Regions from separate parts of the Homo sapiens genome. Here region 2 is linked to region 1. The links come from fine-mapping of genetic effects on gene expression. A gene starts in region 1. The other region holds a variant in brackets. All regions are shown on one strand. Distances are from middle to middle. Region 1 holds the start of PRDM2 (PR/SET domain 2). Region 2 overlaps PRDM2 (PR/SET domain 2).

Region 1 (4,393 bases):
ATACACAGATAAAAACCACACAATGGCTGATTAAGGGTGGGGGGAACCTCAGAAACGCTGAGGAGACACCCAGTGTGGTAGGCTAAATAATGGCCCCATACCTAAATCCACATCCCTAACGTCCAGAATCTGCAAATGCTACTTCATATGTAGTCTTGCAGACGTGATTAAGTGAAGGATCTTGAGATGGCCAGATTATCTGGGTGGGTCCTAAATCACATGTATCATTATGAGAGGGAGGCAGAGGGAATTTGACCACATACACAGGAGAAGATGACATGAAGATGGAGATAGAGATTTGAAGATACTGGCCTTGAAGATAGAGTGATGCAGTCACAAGCCAAGGCATGCTGGCAGCCACCAGAAGCTGGAAAAGGGAAGGAGCAATTCTCTGCTAGAGACTCCAGAGGGAGCCCGGCCCTGCTGCCACCTTAATTTTGGCCTAGTGATACTGATTTTGGACTTCTAGCCTCTAGAGTTGTGACAGAATAAACTTCTGTTGTCAGGGTTGGGATAATTTGTTACAGCAGCCACAGGAAACTAATATAGCCAGTCACTTTGGATTAATGAATTAATAACCGGAAAGACAACTACTGGCTACTCTGTTAACCAACCATCTAGTATCCATTCTGGTTCACCGTGCCACTTCTGATTTAACATCCTTTATTTTCCTTTTGCATTCTATTGAATGCCAGGTGGCCCATAGCTTTTCTCTTAAAATGGTGATTTCTATGTCAGTGTTTTGATGGTGGATGGAACAGTGGGGTCTCCCTATTTTCTTCATAGATACCCCAGATAATTTCGATGCATGGATCCAGTTGGAAGGTATTAATCTAGGTAAGGGGTGCAGAAGTCTGATGACTTTGCTCCACAACAGAGAATACTACTTTGATGACAGGCACGTGGTATCTCCCAGATCTAGGGTCTCTTTTCCTTGAATAGCGGAAGAAATAAGCAAACCCTTGAGGTTTGATTTATTTCCTTATTTTCTTAAGCCCTGTCACTTCTCAAGGCCTTAATAAAATTTACTCTAATGAGGTGATCTTCATTTGTTTACTATAACCGACTCGATCATCAGCTATAGCCTCATTCTTTTTTTTTTTTTTTTTTTTGATACTGAGTCTCGCTCTGTCACCCAGGCTGGAGAGCAGTGGGGCATCTTGGCTCACTGCCAGCTCCGCCTCCCGGGTTCACGCCATTCTCCTGCCTCAGCCTCCGGAGTAGCTGGGACTACAGGCGCCCGCCACCACGCCTGGCTAATTTTTTGTATTTTTAGTAGAGACGGGGTTTCACTGTGTTAGCCAGGATGGTCTCGATCTCCTGACCTCGTGATCCACCCGCCTCGGCCTCCCAATGTGCTGGGATTACAGGCTGAGCCACCGCGCCCGGCCTAGCCTCATTCTTTTACAATAAGATAACATGATATATGTTGATACAACACGTTTTCTTTCTTTTTTGAGATGGAGTCTGTCTCTGTCGCCCAGGCTGGCGAGCAGTGGGGCGATCTTGGCTCACTGCAAGCTCCGTCTCCTGGGTTCACGCCATTCTCCTGCCTCAGCCTCCGGAGTAGCTGGGACTACAGGCACCCGCCACGTCGGCCGGCTAAATTTTTGTAGTTTTAGTAGAGACGGGGTTTCACCGTGTTAGCCAGGATGGTCTCGATCTCCTGACCTCGTGATCCACCTGCCTTGGCCTCCCAAAGTGCTGGGATTACAGGCGTGAGCCACTGCGCCCGGCCAACACGTTTTCTTAAGATTAAACCTGTTACATAAATGATCGTTCATAATTTTTGGAAGCACACCTGCCCTTAGTATCCTGTTTTTCCACTGGGTGCTTTCTGCAGATGGCCAACGTAGCCATCACATTCGGATTCTTCCTGACTTCATTCTCAGAGGATTACTTTATCTTGAAGTGCTGAAGGCTCCAGGCACCATCTATAACGACAACTCCCAACTTTCCAGCTCATCTCCAGCCTGTGCTTCTCCCCGACTCAACTCATTTTCAACCACGTGCTAGGCCTCCACCCTTGGATGTCGAAGAGCCATCTCCAGTTCCACCCAGTTCATCTTCATCAGAACATCTATGAGTCGTCGTCTCTGCAGTCCATTTGTTTGCCCGCTTGGGAACAGCAAGCTCCTTAAGGGCAGGACTACTACCGCGCTCTCAGAGGCGCTGCACTGGAACATCGCGGGCACAGGGCAGCGTTGGTCACTGCTCCTGGGTACTAGGGCAGCAAATAAACCCAGCAGCTGCGTCTGTCTGCCTGGAGTTGGATCTTTTTGGTATAGATCCAAACGTAGAAGTATAAGGTCTACGTTTATGTACTTGTCAGATATTTAATGACCTCCAACGATAGACATGCCCCCCCAACACCTCCTTCAGTCTTTTTGATTCTTTGAGAATCTTTGAACCACGCAGGATCCTAGCCCTAGGGTGCGGTCGGACTTGCCGCGACGCCAGCCGCCGGGGTTCCTTCCCGAGGCGCCGCCATGGGATCCGCGGTGACCTACGAGGGGCGGCTGGGTGGTGGCCATTGGGCGACGGCGCAGGGTCAAGGGCCGGGCTCTGGGATCGTGGGGAGACCGGGGGTCCCGGAGCCCCCCAGCCCCGCAGGCCACTGCCTCGCCGCCCGACGTCACTTCCGACTGGAGTCAAGATGGCGGCGGCGCGGCCGCGGGCGCCGGGGCCGGCGAAACAGCGGCGGCGGCGGCGGCCCTCGGTGCTCTGAGGCGCTGGCGCGGCGGGCGCGGGTAAGGAGTGGCGCGGGTGGGCGGCCTCTGGGCTCGCGCCGGGACGCTGGTCCCTCCCCCCGAGGAGCGCGGCGGCGACGGCGGCGGCGACACGCTGGGGACCCGGCGCCGCAGGGATGGCCGGGTCGGCGGACGCGCCCCCTCAGAGGTCCCGGGCGTGCCGGGGGCCCCGGGACGAGGCGCGGGCCTCCGGGTCGGTGGCCCCGCGGGTGGGTGGCGGCGCCGGGCTCCTCCTTGTCGGCCGTGGGGTCCCTGCGGCGAAGTTCGGGATTCGGTTTGTCGCCGTGAAGAGCCGCGCGCCCCGCGGGGGACGCGTGCGGGCTGCAGAGACTGGCCGGGTGCGGGCGGCGGTGGGGCCACCTGGGGCCCCACGTGGGGCCGGGCGCCGTCCCAATTGTCAAGCCGCTGTGCTTTTCTCTTTTGTGTTCCCACTGAGTGTGTCTTGCACATTTGCACTCCAAATTTGTTTTGTGTCTTGCGTCTTTGTGTTTCCCAAATAGTTTTTGTGTGGTTTTAACCTGGAGATTGTCTCCCTCAATGTTCCCATAGACCCACGGGTGTATGTGTGTGTGTGCGCACGCGCGCGTGTGTGTGTGTTACAGACGTGCAACTCTGTTACTAATTTTGCTAATAAAGCTATCAATGAACCTCTTTTGATGGTGGTAAGTGAGACATGAAGTAAACCTAACAGGTCAGTGTCATTCCCCAAACCTTCGTGGTTCTTTCGATCCACGCGTGAGCCACCGACCCTCCGGGCTTGTAGCTTTGTGTCGGGCTGTGAGCTGCGGCAAAGACCCCATAGTTAACCGGGAAGTCCTGATTTCCTTAACTACGCAGCTGAAATTTCCCCTAACAGAAATTTCGTGCTGGCCCCTCACTTTTCTTTTAGTGTTGTATTGAGATTTTGGGTGTATTTGAGACGTGGAACGTCTTTTGCTGAATCCCAGTAGGTCCTTAGATCCCTTTAACCAGACACTAGAAGAATCATTTTTACCCCAGAACTCGACTAAAATGTTTAAGTTTTTGTTTACTCCAGGTTTATTAAAAGTGACCGAAACTTTTAACAACAAATGGAACTCTTCAATGATTTCTTTTACAATGGTACACACTTCGCCTCGGTTTGATCAGTTGTGTCCAAGTATTAGAAAAATGTAGGCCTTTTAAAAAAAAACATGATAGGAAATTTACATATATTAAGGAGGAGGAACTGAGACACACTGTCATACGTTCTTTTTTAGTAGGGTTCTGTGTTTTTGAGATGGTCCAAACTGCCCCATCACTCTTGAGGCTTCCGGACTAACACTTATTGGCCAAATTTTTACATGTAGAATCTTAGTTTAGCCTTGAGATGACCTTTAAAGATCATTTTTATTAAACCCCCTCATTTCGAGCTATGGAAACAAATCAAAATTCACAGTGGAACTAAAACTCATTTACATTTTCTGTGATTCCAGGGCTCTTTTTACTCAACACATCTGTTTTGGTTTGATTGAAATAAGTTAATACATTTTAAGTGCTTAGAAAAGTGCCAGAACATGATAATACTGCTCAGTAAATGTTTGCTTTTGTTGATTCTGAAGGTGGTTTCTTTAATTGAAAGGTTGGTATGTTCAGGTTTGTTTTTTCCTTATTTTGTGGACAGG
Region 2 (4,393 bases), 88 kb after region 1:
CCACAGTCATTCAGGTTCTCCTGCTGCAGCTCTTACTACAGTGACCCACCCCCCACCCCTCGCCATGGCTTTCTGGAGTGCTGAGTTTAAATCTGTTGCTAAGGGTTCATTTCCATGGGCTCCAGTAAAGCAGAAAGGGAAGGAAAGAGGTGTATTCTCTACTCACCTCCTACTCATCTTTCACCTTTGTAAACCCCACGGTGTTTTTGGGTTCTTTTTTTTTTTTTTTTTTTAATGAGACAGAGTCTCGCTCCGTTGCCCAGGCTGGAGTGCAGTGGCACGATCTTGGCTCACTGCAAGCTCTGCCTCCCGGGTTCACGCCATTCTCCTGTCTCAGCCTCCCGAGTAGCTGGGACTACAGGTGCCCGCCACCATGCCCGGCTAATTTTTTGTATTTTTAGTAGAGATGGGGTTTCACCGTGTTAGCCAGGATGGTCTCGATCTCCTGACCTTATGATCCGCCCGTCTCGGCCTCCTGCAGTGCTGGGATTACAGGTGTGAGCCACCGTGCCTGGTGTTTTTGGGTTCTTTAATGCTTCTTTTAGAGCCACATTTTTCTTTTCAAACCGAGTTCCCATCGCAGTCAAGAAAAAGGTAGAGAAGCAAAATGAAATTCTAGACCAAGTTTTTCCATTTACCAGGAATTGATTTAAAAAAAAAAGTGCTAATTTCTCATGCCTCCATCTCTGCTACATCCCTTGGAAATAAATGCGTGTAGTTCCTTGCAGGGTGTGTCTTCTGGGTAGGACGCTCGTTCCTAAATGCCTTCAGTCATGTATGTGTTGTCGTCTTAATAACATTTGTCTTACGGTCTATTCACCTTTTTCTTTAACATGGTCAATCATGTAAGGTTATGTTCTGTTGTCATTTATCTTCAGTTTTCTTATTTTCTAGGAACTTCCTGTAGAAAAGCCCCCAAAACAAAACAAACCTTAATTGACTAAAAAGTATTGCATGCTCAACTTAGGATAAGCACTACGGCAAAGGATACGAAATCTACCAAGCTTGCAAGACCAGTTGAAGCTGACTCAAAAATCCTAACATTCAGCTGATTGCCGGCAGGCTTAGAGTCAGGCATCTGCTGCTTCGGTGGGGGCCCAACGCGCATGCTGGGCGCCCGGGTGATTGAGATCCAAAGAGAAGGGCACTGTAAGACAGGCCAGATGAACTGGCTCCTCGTCATGGGACTGGTACCTCAGATCTGAGCATGGCCCTTGTTTTTGGCACGTAGCAGAGAAAGGATTGATTTGAACTTAACCTTGCAAAGCAAGTTGCCTGTTTTAGCAGTAGTTTGTTGTAGGTTTCAGGGATGACAGATTTGGATGCACTCATTTAAAACGTTTTGGTCACATATCAGCTCTTGATGCCTTTCTTTTAAATTAATTATAGACAGAGAGAGGCATTTAGCTGATCTCTTACCCCTGGTATTTCTTTTTTTTGTTGTTTTCGTTTTTTTAAATCACAAGTAGATTGCCAGCGTAATGGAGAGGAAACCAGATTGGATATGGACTCTTTTTTATGCCTATTCTGGTGTTGCGTTTGTATATCCAAATGGACGTTATCCTCTCAGATTCTTATCTGGCACTAATTTATAACTATTATATTATCAGAGACTATGTAGCAATATATCAGTGCACAGGCGCATCCCAGGCCTGTACAGATGTATGTCTACACGTAAGTATAAATGAATTTGCATACCAGGTTTTACACTTGCATCTCTAATAGAGATTAAAAACAACAAATTGGCCTCTTCCTAAGTATATTAATATCATTTATCCTTACATTTTATGCCTCCCCCTAAATTAATGACTGAGTTGGTGGAAAGCGGCTAGGTTTTATTCATACTGTTTTTTGTTCTCAACTTCAAAAGTAATCTACCTCTGAAAAATTTGTAGTTTAATATTTGTTTGGTGAATTTGTGCCACTTTAATCCTTCCACTATCATTCCCATTTTGTTACATTTCTGTTATGGGGACTTTATGTTGAAATATTGTATAAAGCATTTGTAGCAATTTAAAAATAAAATATTTAAAATTATTTAAATTGTTTTGGACGCTTCAATTGTATTATATGTGATTTACATTTCACTTTTTTTGTTGGCGTTGTTAACCCGGAGAGTGCTCCTGTATTGAACTTTGCTGTTAGTTATTTTATTGCTTCTTTTTGGAGAGTGCTATAAAAGACTATTCTAATGAAAACATTAAAATTTACA[A/G]TTTGACATACAAAAAGGGGTTGTCCATTGATTTTAACCAATGTAGCACTGAGAGAGAGAGAGGTTAATTATAGATAGACAAGAGTGGTGTTTGTTGTTTTTCCCCTCCCAGCATTGAAATCATTGGGGCTTGTCAGATGTATTAAAAAAAGATTTGTTGTGCTATTGCTGCAAACACTTAATAACTAGAGGAGAATTTAAACAATGCATTTTATATTATTGTAACCAATAAAAAACTTTCTAAACATCTGTGAAAGGACTGCATTTTGTACATAATTGGGAGCAGTTAGGGGGTAAAACAAGGTGTGTGTGGAGGATTGTTCAGAGCCCGCACTCTAATTTAAAAGTGCGGCGTCTACTCAGCCCACCTGGCGTCTGTTCACTTGTTTCTATTTGACAGTAACTGAATATGTGCTCATTCCAGTTGGATTTCTATGTAGAGGGTGGACGTGTAGTCAGACAACGGTGCCGAGAAGTACCTTGTGAACTCACTCGGGTAAGAGTAAAATACAAAATAATTTCATCTGTGGGGTCTCTGTGCTTCCTAAAAGTTTACTGTAGTTTGTGGATTGATGTTTATTTCTATGGGCTTCCAAAGAATGAAACCAAAAAGTTGTGACATACTCAGTTTATGTGAAATTGCTGGGGTTTTTTAAGATTAAAAATGGCTGACTATAAGCGGTTTCCTATAGTTCATCATCATAGCACTTTGCTAACCACATCTGTCTGTCACTCCTCAGGGAAAGGTGGTGAAGGGATAGCCAGCTTCCCTTGGCCAGATGTTCTGGCATACGATATTCCTCCCTTAGAAAAACACGGAGGAGAGAGGTTGGTGGGAATCTGGAACTGGTCTTCGATATTAGTAGTTTTAAACAAATGAGGCTTCAACACACAGCAGTGCCCTGTGAGGAGTTGAGTGTTGTGAGAAAGAGCACGGTCTTGGATGAGAACTGGATTTCCATCCTAACCCATCTGCTGGCCGTTCATCCCTTCCCTGTGCCTTCAGTAAACGGGCCTCCAACAAGCGCCCTCCATGGCTGCGTCTTCTGTGTTTTAGCCTTGGGCAAGTTCCTTTACATTCTGGATCATAGTTCCCAGTCTGCAAAAAGTGGGGAGTAGACTGGCTGGTTTCTGAGTGCGCCCTCTAGGAGGAGATCTTTTCTCCTGGATCAAGATGCTGTCAGACACAAGCACTGGACTGAAAGAGTGGGATGATGGCTCGGTCTCCACAGTGTCCCTGGCTCTGCCTGGAACATGACAGGGACTCAGATGTTTACTGGAGGAGTCACCAAGGAACCACATCACATCCATCTCACCAAGGGAGAAGCTGCCCTGTTTGGGTTGCTTTGGCTCTTCTTTGATAGAGTTAAACGTTTTTAAAAAATCAAAAGCTAATTAGAGCCTTCCATCCCTGTTACCATTGAAACATTTCACAGTGTTTCTGGTAAATGCCTTGCTAGGCTGGCTGTCTTGTCCTCGTTGTTACAAGTACTTTCTAGCAAGATAATTTTACAAAACCAGCTTAATGTATTGAGTACTTAATGTATGCCTGGCTGTGTTGTAGGTGCTTAGGATACATCTCTGAACAAAATGGACAAAAATCCTGACTTCCGTGGGGCTTGTATTTTCATAGTGGCTTTTTTCCCCACTTTATACTTCATATTCCAAACCTCCTCGCTGTCACAGTTCCCCAGAGGCTAGGTGGACAAGGAGATGCTTCTAGCTTAATATCTGAATGCCAGTAATCTAGATGACTGCCGGCTTTTAATACTTAGCTTAAAATGACTCTACTAAAATTATAGCTCACTTAATGCATTTGATATTTTATTCATGTGGGTTTTGATTTGATATTGAACCTCGCTTTGAATATATTGACTTGAATCCATAAAAAAAATCATAAAGGGCAATTTACCTTGAAAGTGGATTAGAGCACAGGCGGATGAGAAAAGGGTTGACTAGGATATAAAGGCCACATTTAAAGTGTTTCAAAGACCAGGCTGATAGTTACAGAAAATGGTTTATCGTTCCCCGTCAGCCTTTACAGGCCCAGCTCTCATGGCCTCTTTCCTGCCTGATGGCACCACTCCTGCAGCTGCCGCTTCAGGCAGCCTCAGTGAAGGTTCTGGTGAAGCACTGCTGTTGAGCGTATGTTCGAGGGCCTTGCAGGTGTGGATGGGCCAT

The links. PIP is the estimated chance that this variant, and not a neighbour inherited with it, causes the effect. A credible set is the group of variants that fine-mapping cannot tell apart.
Region 2: its variant is the best candidate, but not a certain one, in a credible set for the expression of PRDM2 in whole blood (TOPMed, PIP 0.78).

What each region holds. Positions count from the first base shown.
Region 1 is chr1:13,697,551-13,701,943 of GRCh38, forward strand. PRDM2 (PR/SET domain 2) reads left to right here and starts at 2,638. Exons shown (of 10, transcript NM_001393986.1): 1 at 2,638-2,750. RefSeq lists a silencer at 2,391-3,160.
Region 2 is chr1:13,785,621-13,790,013 of GRCh38, forward strand. The region is part of intron 8 of PRDM2 (PR/SET domain 2); the gene reads left to right. Among named protein-coding and RNA genes, the nearest start is that of PRDM2, 88 kb to the left of the region's middle. The variant A/G (reference allele first, on the strand shown) is at 2,213.